Homo sapiens: one gene and its partners. The protein of the gene in region 1 interacts with the protein of each later gene in a pairwise test. Each region holds a gene or a part of one and is shown in the gene's direction. Other genes may lie near its edges.

Evidence for each region. Proteins that work in one complex are often made in the same cells at the same time.
Region 2: the proteins of AP1M1 (region 1) and CEP57L1 interact in binary tests that used the Homo sapiens proteins (3 or more experiments, as listed by UniProt).
Region 3: the proteins of AP1M1 (region 1) and NKAP interact in binary tests that used the Homo sapiens proteins (3 or more experiments, as listed by UniProt).
Region 4: the proteins of AP1M1 (region 1) and ARNT2 interact in binary tests that used the Homo sapiens proteins (3 or more experiments, as listed by UniProt).

What each region holds. Positions count from the first base shown.
Region 1 is NC_000019.10:16,210,582-16,216,157, forward strand, and holds part of AP1M1 (AP-1 complex subunit mu-1), read left to right. Parts: intron 1-5,576. UniProt on the Homo sapiens protein: Subunit of clathrin-associated adaptor protein complex 1 that plays a role in protein sorting in the trans-Golgi network (TGN) and endosomes.
Region 2 is NC_000006.12:109,144,007-109,147,506, forward strand, and holds part of CEP57L1 (centrosomal protein CEP57L1), read left to right. Parts: intron 1-1,212; 5' UTR 1,213-1,215; coding exon 1,216-1,375; intron 1,376-2,751; coding exon 2,752-2,931; intron 2,932-3,500. UniProt on the Homo sapiens protein: Centrosomal protein which may be required for microtubule attachment to centrosomes.
Region 3 is NC_000023.11:119,920,172-119,923,461, reverse strand, and holds the end of NKAP (NF-kappa-B-activating protein), read left to right. Parts: 3' UTR 1-2,790; downstream 2,791-3,290. Other genes in the region: AKAP14 (A-kinase anchor protein 14), read right to left, coding at 2,855-2,954. UniProt on the Homo sapiens protein: Acts as a transcriptional repressor. Plays a role as a transcriptional corepressor of the Notch-mediated signaling required for T-cell development. Also involved in the TNF and IL-1 induced NF-kappa-B activation.
Region 4 is NC_000015.10:80,592,882-80,596,381, forward strand, and holds part of ARNT2 (aryl hydrocarbon receptor nuclear translocator 2), read left to right. Parts: intron 1-718; coding exon 719-817; 3' UTR 818-3,500. UniProt on the Homo sapiens protein: Transcription factor that plays a role in the development of the hypothalamo-pituitary axis, postnatal brain growth, and visual and renal function. Specifically recognizes the xenobiotic response element (XRE).

The sequences.
Region 1 (5,576 bases):
ACAGTCTCGCTCTTGTCGCCCAGGCTGGAGTGCAATGGCACTATCTCCATTCACTGCAACCTCTGCCTCCCAGGCTTAAGCGATTCTCCTGCCTCAGCCTCCCGAGTAGCTGGGATTACAGGCACCCACCACCAGGCCTGGCTCATTTTTGTATTTTTACTAGAGACGGGGTTTCACCATGTTGGCCAGGCTGGTCTCGAACTCCTGACCTCAGATGATCCACCCGCCTCTGCCTCCCAAAGTGCTGGGATTACAGGTGTGAGCTACCACGCCTGGCCTATTCCATTTTCTTAATGGCTAATAATGTTGAGCATTGCTTTACATGTTTCTTTGTCATCTGTATATCCTCTTTGGAGAAATGTCTCTGTGCATCTTTTTAGCATTTTTAAATTGGGTTATTTTCATATAGTTGAGCCTTGATAGTTCTTTGTGTGTTCCAGATAGAAGTCCTCTGTCAGATAGGTGATTTGCAAGTATTTTCCCCCAGTCTGTAGCTTATCTTTTTATTCTCTTAGCAGTGTTTTTTTTTTTTCGACAGAGTCTCACTTTGTAGCCCAGGCTGTAGTACAAGTGGCATGCTTGGCTCAGTGCAACCTCCACCTCCGGGCTTCAAGTGCTTCTCCAGCCTCAGCCTCCCAAGTAGCTGGGATTACAGACGCATGCCACCATGCCCGGCTAATTTTTGTATTTTTAGTCGAGACAGGGTTTCACTATGTTGGTCAGGGTGGTATCGAACTCCTGACCTCAGGTGATCTGCCTTCCTCGGCCTCCCTAAGTGTTGGGATTACAGGCGTCGGCCACCATGCCCAGCCCCCAATACTATATTGAATAGGAGTGGTGAGAGAGGGCATCTTTGTCTTGTGCCAGTTTTCAGGGGGAACGCTTTCAGCTTTTGCCCATTCAGTATGATGTTGGCTATGGATTTGTCATAGATGGCTCTTATTATTTTAGGTATGTTCCTTCAAAACCTAGTTAGTTGGCTGGGCATGGTAGCTCCCGCTCTACTAAAAATAGGAAAATTAGCCGGGCGTGGTGATGCGCGCCTGTAATCCCAGCTACTCGGGTGGCTGAGGTGGGAGGATCACTTGAGCCCCAGAGGTAGAGGTTGCAGTGAGTCCAGATTGTGCCACCGCACTCCAGCCTGGGCGACAGAGCAAGACCCTGTTTCAAAAAAAAACAAAAAACAAAACCAAAAAACTCCAGTTTGTTGAGAGTTTTTAACATGAAGAGATGTTGAATTTTATCAAAAGCCTTTTCTGCACCTATTGAGATGATCATGTAGTTTCTGTCTTTAGTTCTATTTATGTGATGAATCATGTTTATTGATTTGCATGTATTGAACCAACCTTGCATCCCAGGGATAAAAGCCTTCTTGATTGTGGCGGATTAGCTTTTTGATGTACTGCTGGATTCAGTTTACTAGTATTTTGTTGAGGATTTTTGCATCAATGTTCATCAAGGATATTGGCCTGAAGTTTTCTTTTTTTGTTGTATCTCTGCCAGGTTTTGGTATCAGGATGATGCTGGCCTCATAGAATGAGTAGGGGAGGAGTCCCTCCTCCTCCGTTTTTTTGGAATCATTTCAGTAGGAATGGTACCAGCTCTTCTTTGTACGTCTGATAGAATTCAGCTGTGAGTCCGTCTGGTCCAGGTTTTTTTTGGTTGTTAGGCTATTTATTACTGATGCAATTTTGGAGCTCATTATTGGTCTGTTCAGGGATTCAGTTTCTCCCTGGTTCCATCTTGGAAGGGTATATGTGTCCGGGAGATTATCCATTTCTTCTAGATTTTCTAGTTAGTGTGCATAGAAGTGTTAATAATAGTCTCTAAGGGTTATTTGTAGTTCTGTGGGGTCAATGGTAATATCCCCTTTGTCATTTCTAATTGTGTTTATTTGGGTTTTCTCTCTTTTCTTAATAGTCTAGCTAGCAGCCTATCTATCTTATTCATTCTTTTAAAACACCAGCTCCTGGCTTACTTGATGTTTTGAATGGTGTTTTTGTGTCTCAGTCTTCTAGAGTTCAGCTGTGACTTTGGTTATTTCTTGTCTTCTGCTAGCTTTGGAGTTGGAGGCTTTTGCTTCGTGAGTTCTTTTAGTTGTGATGTTAGGTTGTTAATTTGAGATCTTTCTAACTTTTTGATGTGGGCATGTAGTGCTGTAAATTTCTCTTAACACTGCCCTAGCCGTGTCCCAGAGATTCTGGTCTGTTGTATCTTTGTTCTTATTTGTTTCAAATAATTTCTTGACTTCTGCCTTAATTTCATTATTTACCCAAAAGTAATTTGGGAGCAGGTTGTTTAATTTCCATGTAATTGTATGGGTTTGAGTGATTTTCTTAGTTTTGAATTCTATTTTTATTGATTTGTGGTCTGAGAGAGTGGCTGGTATGCTTTTGGTTCTTTTGCATCTGCTGAGGATTATTTTATGTCCAATTGTGTGGTGGTTTTTAGAGTATGTACCATGTACAGATGAGATATATTCTCTCGTTTTTGGGTGGAGAGTTCTGTAGATATCTATCAGGTCCAGTTGATCCAGTGCTGAGTTAAGGTCCTGGATATCTTTGATAATTTTCTGCCCCAGTGATCTGTCTAATACTGTCAGTGGGGTGTTGAAATCTCCCACTGTTATTGTGTGGGAGTCTAAGTCTCTTTGTAGGTCTCTAAGAACTTGCTTTATGAATCTGAGTGCTGCTGTTGGCTGCATATTTATTTAGGTTAGTTAGATCTTGTTGAATTGAATACCTTACCATTATGCAATGCACTTCTTTGTCTTTTTTTGATCTTTGTTGGCTTAAAGTCTGTTTTGTCTGAAATTAAGATTGCAACTCTGCTTTTGTCTGTTTTCTATTTGCTTGGTAGATTTTTCTCCATTTCTTCATTTTGAGTCTGTGGGTGTTATTGCATCTGAGATGGGTCTTTTTTTTTTCTTTTGAGACAGAGTCTTGCTGTGTTGCCCAGGCTGGAGTGCAGTGGCGCAATCTCGGCTCACTGCAACCTCTGTCCCCCAGGTTCAAGCAATTCTCCTGCCTCAGCCTCCCAAATAGTTGGGATTACAGGCACGCGCCACCACGCCTGGCGGTTTTCTATTTTTAGTAGAGACGAGGTTTCACCATGTTGGCCAGGCTGGTCTCGAACTCCTGACCTCAAGTGATCCACTCGCCTCGGCCTCCCAAAGTGCTGGGATATTACAGGCATGAGCCACTGCACCCAGCCAAGAATGGTGTCTTAAAGGGAGCATATCATTTGGTCTTATTTCTTTATCCAGCTCTTGCCACTCTATGCCTTTTAATTGGGGCATTTAGCCCATTTACATTCAAGGTTAGTATTGATATGCATGTATTTGATCCTGTCATTGTGTTGTTAGCTGTTTATTATGCTGACTTGTTTGTGTGGTTGCTTTATAGTGTTACTTGTCTGTGTACTTAAATGTGTTTTTGTAGTGGCTAGTAATGGCCTTTTCTTTCCTTTTTCTTTTTTTTTTTTTTGAGACAAAGTCTCACTGGGTAGCCCAGGCTGGAGTGCCATGGCGTGATCTTGGCTCACTGCAACCTCTGCCTCCCAGGTTCAAGTGATTCTCCTGCCTCAGCCTCCCGAGTAGCTGGGACTACAGGCGTATGCCACCATGCCCAGCTAATTTTTTTTTGGTATTTTTAGTAGAGACAGAGTTTCACCATGTTAGCCAGGATGGTCTCGATCTCCTGACCTGACCTCGTGATCCACCTGCCTTGGCCTCCCAAAGTGCTGGGATTACAGGCGTGAGCCACTGCACCCGGCCTTTTTTTTTTTTTGAGATGGAGTCTTGCCCTGTCACCCAGGCTGGAGTGCAATGGCATGATCTCTGCTCACTGCAACCTCTGCCTCCCTGGCTCAAGCAATTCTCCTGCCTTAGCCTCCCGAGTAGCTGGGATTACAGGTACCCACCACCATGACCGGCTAATTTTTGTATTTTTAGTAGATATGGAGTTACACCATGTTGGCCAGACTGGTGTCGAACTCCACACCTCAGGTGATTCGCCTGCCTCAGCCTCCCAAAGTGCTGGGATTACAGGCATGAGCCACCACACCCGGCCTTCTTTTCATATTTAGTACTTCTTTCAGGAGCTCTTGTACAGCAGGTCTGCTGGTAAACAAATTCCCTCAGCATTTGCTTGTCTGAAAGGATCTTTTTTATTCTTCTTTTTTTTTGAGACAGGGTCTCATTCTGTTGCTCAGGCTGGAGTGCAGTGGCATGATCATGGCTCACTGCAACCTCTACCTCCCTGGCACAAGCTATTCTCTGGCCTCAGCCTACCAATTGGCTGGGACTATAGGCAGGTACCACCACACCCGGCTAATGTATATGTTTTTGGTAGAGATGGGGTTTTGCCATGTTTCCCAGGCTAGTCTCAGACTCCTGGATTCAGGCACTCCACCCACCTCGGCCTCCTAAAGTGCTGGGATTACAGGTTGAGCCACCACACCCAAGTTGAAAACGATCTCATTTCTCCTTTGCTGATGAAGCTTAGGTTGGCCAGATGTGAAATTCTGGATTGGAATTTCTTTAAAAATGTTTAATATATTGGCCAGGAGTGGTGGCTTACACCTGTAATCCCAGCACTTTGGGAGGCTAAGGCGGGGGCGGGGGGGGGGGAGAGGGGGGAGGGGGGAGGGGAGGGGATCACCTGAGGTCAGGAATTCAAGACCAGCCTGGCCAACATGGTGAAACCTGGTCTCTACTGAAAATATAAAAATTAGCAGCACGTGGTGGTGCATGCCTGTAGTCCCAGCTGCTTGGGAGGCTGAGGCAGGAGAATTGCTTGAACCTGGGAGGCGGAGGTTGCAGTGACCTGCTGAGATCCCACCACTGCACTCCAGCCTGGGCCACAGAATGAGATTCCATCTCAAAAAAAAAAAAAAAAAAAAAAAAAAAAAGAATGTTTAATATAGGCCTCCAATCTCTTCTGGCTTGTAGGGTTTCTGCTGAGAGGCCCACTGCTAGTCTGATGGGCTTCCCTTTGTAGGTGACCTGCTATGTCTCTCTAGCTTCTTTCATTTTGACCCTGGACAATCTGATGATTATGTGTTTTGGGGATGATCTTGTGAAGTATTTTGCAGGGGTTCTCTGCATTCCCTGATTTTGAATATTGGCCTCTCTAGCTAGACTGGGGAAGTTCTCATGGATAGTATCCTGAAATACGTTTTCCAAGTTGCTTCCATTTTCCCCATCTCTTTCAGGGACACCAATGAGTTGTAGATTTGCTCTCTTTTTTAATCCCATATTTCTTGGAGGCTTTGTTCATTCCTTTTCGTTATTTTTTCTCTATTCTCATCTGACTGTCTTATTTCAGAAAGCCAGTCTTCAAGCTCTGAGATTCTTTCCTCAGCTTGGTCTGTACTACTGTTAATACTTGTGATTACATTATTAAATTCTTATACTGTGTTTTTCAGCTGTATCAGGTCAGTTACATCATTTTCTATCCTGGCTGTTTTGTCTGCCAGCTCATATATTGTTTTATTATAATTCTTAGCCTCCTTAGATTGGGTTTCAATGTTCCTAATCTCAATGATCTTTGTTCCTATCCATATTCTGAAGTCTA
Region 2 (3,500 bases), on another chromosome or scaffold:
AGATGCGGTATCCCATGGGGAGCAGGCAGTGTCTGAGATAGCTGGTACTAATCACAATAGCAAAATATGGTTACCTTGCAAGAACAAAAAGCATCAAGTATCTTAGCAAACCTTAGGCTTTATAGCCTCTAATTTAGACCAATCAGAATGTTCTAGGAGATTGCCAATCATGGCAATGGCTAAAGTAGAAAATTCTAGGAAGTGAAGTGTGCCTTCTGCCCTTCCAGAAAATACTATCCTGGGAAGTGCCTGCCTTTGCCTTGTGAATTGAGGAGGTGGTGAAATCATGGAAAATGTACAACTCTCAAAAATCAAAATAGGCTAATGTTATAGTGTAATTCTTGGATTTCCATTTTGAAGCAAGCTTTCTTGCTTAAAATTCTTCCAGTGAGTTATTTTTTTGTAAGCAGTTATCACCTTATGTGATTATGAATTAATTTAATTAACATTGACTGGAATCTATTAAAAAATAGAATACATTTCTAAAATATTTAAATTGCAGAAAGGAAAATAAAATTATTTGGAAATTTTAGACCAAAAATTACCTGCTTAAATGGTTAAAAGGGCTCTCTTACCAAAACAAAAACAACAACAAAATAAAAACCAGACTAACAAAACTAAGTAGTCTAGATTCTTCAGATTTGGAAACTTTCTAATCTAGATGATTAAAATGCTAATACATTAAGCAGAGGTGTGTCTTATTCAAAGGTTAAATTCCGATATTTCATATATCCAAAATTACCCTTGAAAATCCCTTAGGAAGCCATACATTAGAATTCAACAATCAGTATTAGAGAATCAGTGTATATTGTTGGTTTGTGTTTAAAAGCTCAGTTATCTTTTAGAATATGTACTTTCTCTTTAAATCCTAGAGTCACACTGCTTATAGAGAAGTGCTCAGACTATGATAGGTATATGGGATTTATGGGTAACTGAGAAACCAGTAAATTCAAATCACTCATGTGATGCTTACTCCAGGGTATATGATTATTGAAAATCAGGCAGAATTGTCAGTACTGCTTACACAAGAAATAGTAACTTTTCTTTCTTTTATTGCCAAGCCTATTAGAGTTGAATTTATAATTAAGTTCATAAAGATACAACTCCACAGTATATGATTATGTTTTTAAAGTTTCACCTGAATTTTTGTATAATGCATTTACCCTTAAAATAGGAAAGCATGATACTATATCATTCCTTTATTCTCTACAGATAATGGATTCTGAATTAATGCATAGTATAGTAGGAAGCTATCATAAACCTCCAGAAAGAGTATTTGTTCCCTCATTCACCCAGAATGAACCATCTCAGAATTGCCATCCTGCAAACTTAGAAGTTACCTCTCCTAAGATACTTCATAGCCCAAATAGCCAAGGTAATGCTGATATAAAATTTGAAGAATGGTAAAAACATGCTATAAAAAACTTTTCATATTTATGTGGAATACAATATGATTGCATATTTAATCTTAACAAAACTCCTAACTTTGATTCTGTTGCTAAAAGTTTCTATGAACTTAGACAAATTACTTGACATTTTTTATTTTGGCTTCTTCAGCCATAAAATGAAGATTAATACAACCAGCTGGACACATATCACAGAGTTATCATAAAAACATCATTTGAAAACAGGAAAATACTCTTTGAAGAATAAAAGGTCAGATTTGGAATACTAAACTAGATGATTAGAATGTTAGTGAATTAAATGGAATTGCATCTTATTCAAGAATTAGATTCAGAAATTACATATATCCAAAATTATTCTTGAAAATATTTTAGGAAGCCAGTATATCAGAGTAACTACAAAATACTAGTATTTTAACGTTTAAAATAGAAATGTAGGAGGATCTTAAAATTGAATTAGGAAAACATTTTATTACTCCAGGCATATTTTAAGCTGTGCAAATTCTTTTCTGAGATGCTGATATCACCTACTTTTAAAATCTTCTATAATAATGGTTGCTGTTAATAAATAAACTAGTTTTGTGGAATAAACTATAAGAAATAATAATGCAAATCAATGTGCCAGCTACAGATATCATGTAAAGAGGAATAAATATAATTTATTTATCTCATTTATAAAAACAAAATGGTAATCTCTAGCAAGCATCTTTCTAATTTGATATAAACTATATGACAGTTAAAACTCTGAACTTATCTGAAGCATGAAGATATTAATATAGTTGAATATAAGTCACAGTAGTATAGAATACTATTATCTTTCAGGTCTGACATCAGGTAAACCATTAGGTTATAATTATCCTGGTTCTTAATACTGCATCATGGACAAAGAAACAGTAAATATGTGTGATTTGACTAAAACGGAATACCTCAAGAACTGAGAAAAAAAGCCTATAACTTTAAACCTAAATTGCCATGTTAATTAGTAGAAATTATATTTTAATGTTCTTATTCATATTTATACTCTTATGCTCCCCAGACTGTACATTGTCTTTAAGTCCTTTCATTTGTAAATATTTTATTAAATTAAAATTGTGGTTATTACCTTTCTCAGTCTTAGAAACCACTAAATACAATAATAGATATAGTGTTTTTACAAGATATATTAGAGAGAAAATGTGCGCCTCTTCAAAGTGTTAGTCATTATTTTTCATTTTTTGAAGAATATGCATTACTTGTACATTTTTCTGGCTCAGTAACAAAAATATACTGCTTATTTTTCTTATGTTACTTTGATTGTAAGTGTTCAGAAACTTTCACTTAAAATATCAACAAAATTTTTTTTCAACAGCTCTTATTTTAGCCTTAAAAACTCTTCAGGAAAAAATTCATCGTTTAGAGCTGGAGAGAACACAAGCTGAAGATAACCTGAACATTCTTTCCAGAGAAGCAGCACAGTATAAGAAGGCCTTAGAGAATGAAACAAATGAGAGAAATCTGGCACACCAGGAGCTGATAAAGCAGAAAAAAGGTAAGAAATGCAGTAGTTCTCAGAAACCGGGGGTTACTGGAGTTTACAGTTCAAAAATAATAAACCTAGTCTAAGCCGATGTACTCAGATATCTTTATTCTTATATATATTCAAACTTCATGACTTTGTTCTCAGACCTTTTGATATTTGTGAGAAAAAGATACAGTTTTGAACTTACCTCTATCATATCTTACTTATCATAATTCATAAATTCTAGAAATTAAAGGAAAAATTAAGATTTTAGACAAGTTGTGTTTAAAAATTAGAATATTTTCAGAATAGCCAACAAACTCCAATTTAACCCGTAATTGAATATTTATTTTTTATTTTATTTATTTGTATTTGCAGTTAACACTAAACTTTAGAATTTGAAATACAGAACAACACTAGTAATTAAACAATGTAAAACCAATAAAAATGAATACAAAAGAATTTTATTTAATGAGAGGAAAGCAAGGTTAATTAGAAGACATAGGCAAATGGGGGAGGCTTCTGTGGAAATTATGAAAAATTTTAGAAATTTAGAACATAAGTCTTTTAAGTAATTTCACTTCAAAACTTAAGACTTT
Region 3 (3,290 bases), on another chromosome or scaffold:
GAGAAACTAAAATGATATTAAATATTTTTAACTGTCTTTCATATACTAAGTAGATTTCATTTTAAACACTTAAACCTTTCTGTTTGTTTTTAAGTTGGGGAGAAATGGAAAATTGTGGGACTATGATATCGTGGTCTTGTTCCTTTGTTTATTTCGTTCAATTTTAATTAGGTCAGAAGAGTGAATGGGGGAGGGAACCCAGGAAGTTTTGGCTGTTTTCATTAAGGTTGGTTTTCTGTTTTTTGTTTTTTGAGATAGAGTCTCACTCTGTCACTCAGGCTGGAGCCCAGTGGTGTGATCTCGGCTCACTGTAACCTCTGCCTCCTGGGTTCAAGTGATCCTCCCACCTCAGCCTCCCAAGTAGCTGGGATTACAGGCACTCACCACCACAACTGGCTAATTTTTGTATTTTCAATAGAGATGGGGTTTCGCCATCTTGGCCAGGCTGGTCTCGAACTCCTGACCTCAAGTGATCTGCCCGCCTCAGCCTCCTGAAATGCTGGGATTACAGGTGTGAGCAACCGTGCCTGGCCGTTTTTGTTAAGGTTATTTGATCTGCATTATTATTACATGCCTATGATAAATTTAAATTACCTGAGTGATAAGGACATTCTGATTATACTATTGTAAAATGCCCGCTTGCCTTATATTTTTAAGTGGTTGTTTTTCAAAAGTGTTTAAATAAGGCAGTCATATTTCAAAGTATAGAGCAAAAGTTTTTTTATTATTATTTTTGAGACAGGGTCTCCCTCTGTCACCCAGGCTAGAGTTCAGTGGTGCAATCTCGGCTCACTGCAACCTCCACCTCCTGGGCTCAAGCAATCCTCCACCTCAGCCTCCCGAGCAGCTGGGACTACCAGTGTGCACCACCATGCCCAGCTAATTTTTGTATAGTTAGTAGAGACAAGGTTTCACCTTATTGCCCAGGCTGGTCTCAAACTCCAGACCTCAAACAATCCGCCCGCCTCGGCCTCCCAAAGTGCTAGGATTATAGGCGTGAGCCACCACACCCGGCCCAAAGTTTTATAATTAAACAGTATTAACAGTCTTAAATACTATTAAATATATGTTCCAGGAAATGTCTACTTTTAACCCGCAACTACTGAAAATAAGAGTCAGCATGTAGCAGCATTAATGACCCCTGAATTTGAAATGATTTCTGTTTATTTATACCTAATTGTAGTTGCTGCCTAGCCTAATAAATCTGTAGTTTTCAAAAGTTAAAAGAAACTAGTTCCCAAAGTTTTGAGTCTCAATCCATCTACTTCCCTGAATAATAAAACCTGAATTTTGTAATACCCACTTAAAAATTTTATTCTCAGCTGGGCGTGGTGGCTCACACCTATAATCCCAGCACTTTGGGAGGCCGAGGTGGGCGGACCATGAGGTCAGGAGATCAAGACCATCCTGGCTAACATGGTGAAACCCCATCTCTACTAAAAATACAAAAAATGTAGCCGGGCATGGTGGCACGTGCCTGTAGTCCCAGCTACTCGGGAGGCTGAGGCAGGAGAATTGCTTGAACCTGGGAGGTGGAGGTTGCAGTGAGCCGAGATCAAGCCACTGCACTCCGGCCTGGGAGACAGAATGAGACTCCGTCTCTAAATAAACAAACAAATAAAAATGTATTCTCTAAGGACATTTTTTTTTTGGTTACTGGTTCCTAGAGATGAAATGATTATCTTATTTTCAGTAGGCAAGGTAGTTTAAATGCAGAAATTCTGCGATATATGAATATTGTGACATCAAGAACAGCTTCATTGGCATATTCTTTGGGAAAGAGGCAAGAAGAATAAAAGGGCTAAAAGTATTTTATTTTCAGCTTATGAGTGTTGTTACTGCTTCAAATTGTGTTTAGTCACCTGAGCCATAAATCAGTTGTAGTAGGGCTATTGTATTTTAAATATATTTTTTGTTCTCCAAGGAGACTTATCTAGTTTGCCACCTCCTTGCCTATTGCTCTGATGTGGTTTTCCCTCCTTTTTTATTTATTGCACAAATATCTAACAGTTAAAAAAGAAAAATTTCAGTACCATATCAATTGTCTTTCATATTTTGTGTTCCTCCTTTCCAGTGCTTTTCTATGTAAGTAAATATTCTGATGTACTTGTAAGTAATCACTCAGAGCATAATGTAATTTTGTCTTTGGTGTCTTAAAATTTTGCAGCCAGGCAAGAGAGGTTCACAGGGAAGGTAGGAACAAGTGATTATTCAGTGTGAGGATGGGAAGAAGATCAAAGATAAGTAAGGGCAATGATTGTATCCTTCCCGTGTCATTGCCCCTAGTCCCCAAGCCACCCTCCTGCAATCATGAGTATAGTGGTGTATTGTGGAAGGCAGCATGCCCAGTTTTCCAGTTTCAAAATATATTATTTAGCAGTGAGGCTTAACTCCCAGTAAATGAAGGGGTCTGTGAGTAGGGGAACCCTTCAGACTGGTTATATTATGAGCTGTAGAACTGTTGCCATTTTGTTGTTCCCAGTTGTGCCCATAAAGAGATGTGTCTGAGCTGGAGACTTAGGCTCAGATGGGGAACAAACAGCCAAGTACCAACCTTAGTTTGGTCCAATAGGTGAATTTTAGCAACTCTCTAAACTCAGCTCTATACCTGTAAGACTCAGAAGTGATACATATAGTGATAGAAAAAAATACTTTAGAAAATAGAAAACAACTTACTGGTTACTCTGCTAATGTGATGGAGGTTGCAGAATGGAAAATGAATGAATGCAAAAAAATACAGCTGGATTGTGTGCCACAAGTTTATTACTCAATAAATATTCTGTGGTTTGACGTGCTGTATTGTATTTTTAATGTATCCTGATGAGAAAAACAATCCTAAGACATCCTGTAAGTATCAGACACGATTGAATAAGAAGGGGAATGACTCCATGAAACTATATTTGGCATCAGTAAGATTCTTCTGCCAGTTTTCTCGAAAGCGAACCATTCCTGGTCTACAAAGGAAGAAAAACAAACACTTTTAAAGTATTTTTAAATCAAAAGCTTTTAAAATCAAACAAAGGGGATTCCCTATTTACTCTTTTATATTCCTAGTAAGCAAGAAGCCTCTTTTATTGGCGGGGGAGGGGAGGTAGCTAAGGTTCTCTATGTCTATCCTTTACTGTTTCTTAAGCCCAGTCAATGAAAGGATTTATGAGCTTATATGTAAAGATACTTTAAGAGAGCTGCTATAAAAGGGATTATTATACATGAGTTAATTTTATGTGATATTGAAGTTTTCCTTAGAAACGATAGACATGACCCACTTTGCCTCCACCCCACTCCAGCAA
Region 4 (3,500 bases), on another chromosome or scaffold:
TTCTTTATTGCAGGACGTATCAGAGCTTTTATTACACCAATAAGGACTGGATTTCTAGGAGGTAGGCAAAGTGTGCCTTGTTTCCCAAACTTATTTGTCCACAGAATTCTTTTCTCACAGAGTATCACATGGGCTGAGAATTCAACAGAACACATGTTGGGGAATTGGCTGTAAGAAACTAAAATAGTGCTATTCCCGTTTTCTGGATGGGTCATCTGAGGCCCAGAGGACTGGAAAGACATGTTGAAACTGAAATCTAACCATTCAGGGATTCGTCCCTGCGCTAAGATAAACATGGAAGACAGGCCAGCCAGGTCTCCACATACATCTTCCTTCCACTCCACTCTGCGTTGCATTTCTCTTATATTTTGGCCATCTGCTATCTGTTAGGTGCACCTTGCTTGGGGCCAGCCTGGGGTCTCCCCGCCAGTGGGGTTCTCGTCTACCCTGGGTCCCTGACTCAACCTTAGATAGACAAAGGGCATGTCCTAATGCCGTTTACCTGCTGTCACAACAGCTCCCTGGGGAGAACAGTTTCCCCGGGTCTCAGACATTTGAGGACCCTTGCAGAGCATCCCGCAGAAGGCTGGGGAGGACCTCTGGGCTGCCCCTTTAGGGATGGCCATGAGGGTGAGTGCAGACTGGGCTCCTGGGACATGCCCAGTGCACGGACAGAGGAGCTGACTCCCCTGTGGCTCTCTTTTCCTCTCCTCTGCAGGACATGCTGCCCATGCCAGGAGATCCAACCCAGGGGACTGGCAACTATAACATCGAAGACTTTGCCGACCTGGGCATGTTTCCACCGTTTTCTGAGTAGCTGCGGCCAGAGTGAGGCTCCTGCTGTACAGTGCCACCCATACTGTGATGTCGATGCCCATGTGAATGAGGCCCACCCTCGCCCTGCTTGCCCTGCCGCAGGCCCCCCACCAGAAGCCATCTCCCCCGCTGTGTGTCCCCAGGCGCATCATTGCTCCACTCTCCCCTGCAGCCGCGGCTGCTCGGCCACTGACCAGGGGCCCTGGCAGACATTAGGGGATCAGTTGTATTTATTGTATTTTATCTGTGTGTGCTCAGGAGGTGAGCCTAGTGGGTCCTTAAGTTTGGTTGTGAATAATCTCTTGATAGACAATTTATACCCATGAAAGTTCAGCCAATGCCCAGAGTGACCAAGCAGCACCAGCAGGCCTGCCCAGGATGCTGAAAGCAGATTTCTTCTTGATTTCACTTCTGATGGATGCATGGGGCTCTGGGGGAATGCTGGGAAAATGGGCAAGCAGAGTGCACAGCCCTCGTTCTGCCAGCTGGAGCCAAGAAGCACAGAGACACAGAGGCGCCTGCCCCTCAGCTCCGCTGGTCTGTCTGTGCATCCACTGTGCCGTGGGACATATGTAATTTGTGCAGTGTGACATGGACTTGCTGTCCTAATGGATGTGTTGTGCCTTGTGTCTGTCATGTGTGGCCAGCGTGATTGTATAGAATCCAGAGTATGTAGAGAGCCAAAATGTGTGGCCCTGTCCCCAAGCTCAGCACCACCGGCCATGACCAGAGGTTGCTCGGCCCAGGGTCTGGGAGCTGGGCTAACAGGCTGACACTTCGGCAGGGTCACCAGGAGGCACAGCTAGGGGCATGCTCACATGGGTAGGTCAGTTCTTTGGTCCAAGCCTCTGGTGCAGATTCAAGCTCCTCCTCTTAGAGGAAGCAGCTCCTTCCTCCCACAGGAGCCCCAAGGGAGCACTCACCCTCCTCCCAATTGGATCTGAATAGCTGTGTTCCTGATCCCACATAAGCATGTCTCATCCTTGCCCCACTGGTGAGAGGAGGACCTTGTGCCTGCCCAGAGCCTGCAGGACAGCACGCCTTGAGGTCAGAGGCCTGGCCCTTCTTTACAGATGTAGATAGCAGGGTAGGACGCCCAGGCCTTCTCACATGGGCACCATGAAACACTTTCTTCCAGGCCACCTGAGCCTTCGTTCTTCAGCCCGACTGGAGGAACAGCAGCTCTGGGAGGCACAGAGTGCAGGTCTCAGGGGCAGAAGACATGGGTTCCAGTTCTGGTTCTGCCACACACCCACCGGCCTTGAATTTCTCTGGTGGTCTCAAGACAAGAACAAGAGCTGACTCTAGAATCTTCTGCCTGGCTGACCTCTGAGCCCATGATCCCTGGCTTGCTGTGCTTCTCTTGGATTTGAGGAGAGTTTATGAATCCATCCCCCTGTTTTCAGGGACCTCTGCCTTCTCCCACACCCCTTACACTAGTGAGGACTCCTTCGGCCTCTTGTGTTTCCTTCCTTTTGTGACCATTACGCCCCCTCCCTGTTTCTTATCACCAGCCCATCAGCCCACTGACTCCCATATGGTAGAAAAGGTACCGTGGCTGCTGCAGGGCACATGGAGGGACCTACCCTCTGGGAAAGCCCTTGTGTCCCTCCCAGAGTCCTTCAGGTAGGCCCTCGCAGATGCTGCTTGCTCAGAAACAACCCGTGCATCCCTGCCCATGGATTCTGCAGGACCTAGAAGAGTGGCATTGGTTCTAGGAACCTGAGAGTGGAGTGAGGCCAGCATGCAGGAAGGAGTTTGGAGAGAGTGTTTGCTGTGATCCATTGAAAGCTCCACATTAAACCCCAGCCCTGTCTGGCCAGGGAGATCCATGTGCTCAATGTTGCTGGGGGACCTACAAAAGTCAAACATTGCTCAGTAAAATGCCTTTGGCTGGTCGCCAGCTGTGCATGACTGCAGTTCCTAGACTCTAACTTAACCCCAACTTTGCAGTTTCTAGAGCTTTTTGTCTGTAATGGTGATTGGGTCTCCACTGTAGATGCATGCAGTGTTCACTCCAACCTCAGAGGCTTTCTTGCTTCTGGGGAAATGGCAGGTGGTTGAAACCCTGCACATCCTCCCAGGGCCAGCCCCAGAATGGGCCTTTCTCTGCCTGCCCTGCCCTTGGGGCCACCTCTGCCTCCAGCAGGCTTGAGCTTGCCCCAGGCCTTGGGCATAATTATTTCCCCCCAAAAAAGGCACAAAAATAGGTTTTGGATCAAAGAAGTGTTTCTCAGTGAAATGAAAACAGTCTTTTTATAGCCTTTAGCTTGTGAGTTTGGAAGTTTGGGGGGTCTTATGTTTGTTTTGCCTCTTCTGTTTCTTGGAGGAGAGTTGAGGCTTTTCTTAGGTGCATACACAGACCCAGGTGAACACGCTGACTGTGAACCTGCCCTGTATCCGGAGCTGTGCTGGGCACTGAGGGGATGCAACAAAATTAGGAGAGGATCCTTGCTCCCAACGTCTACTTCTCCTACCTCAACAGGGGTCCAGGGTGCAGTGAACTCAGTTCTTGGCCCTTGGGTGAGGATTCATGGATGAATGAAAGCTAGACCTGATGGGGAGGCATTATGACTAAATAGGCCCAGCCTCCTTCCCTTCCAGCTCTGTCCTAGGAGCATAGGCGGGAAATCTGAGTAGAGTCTGACTGCAGTTTTTGCTTATGATTTGTAAAAGCCGTCATG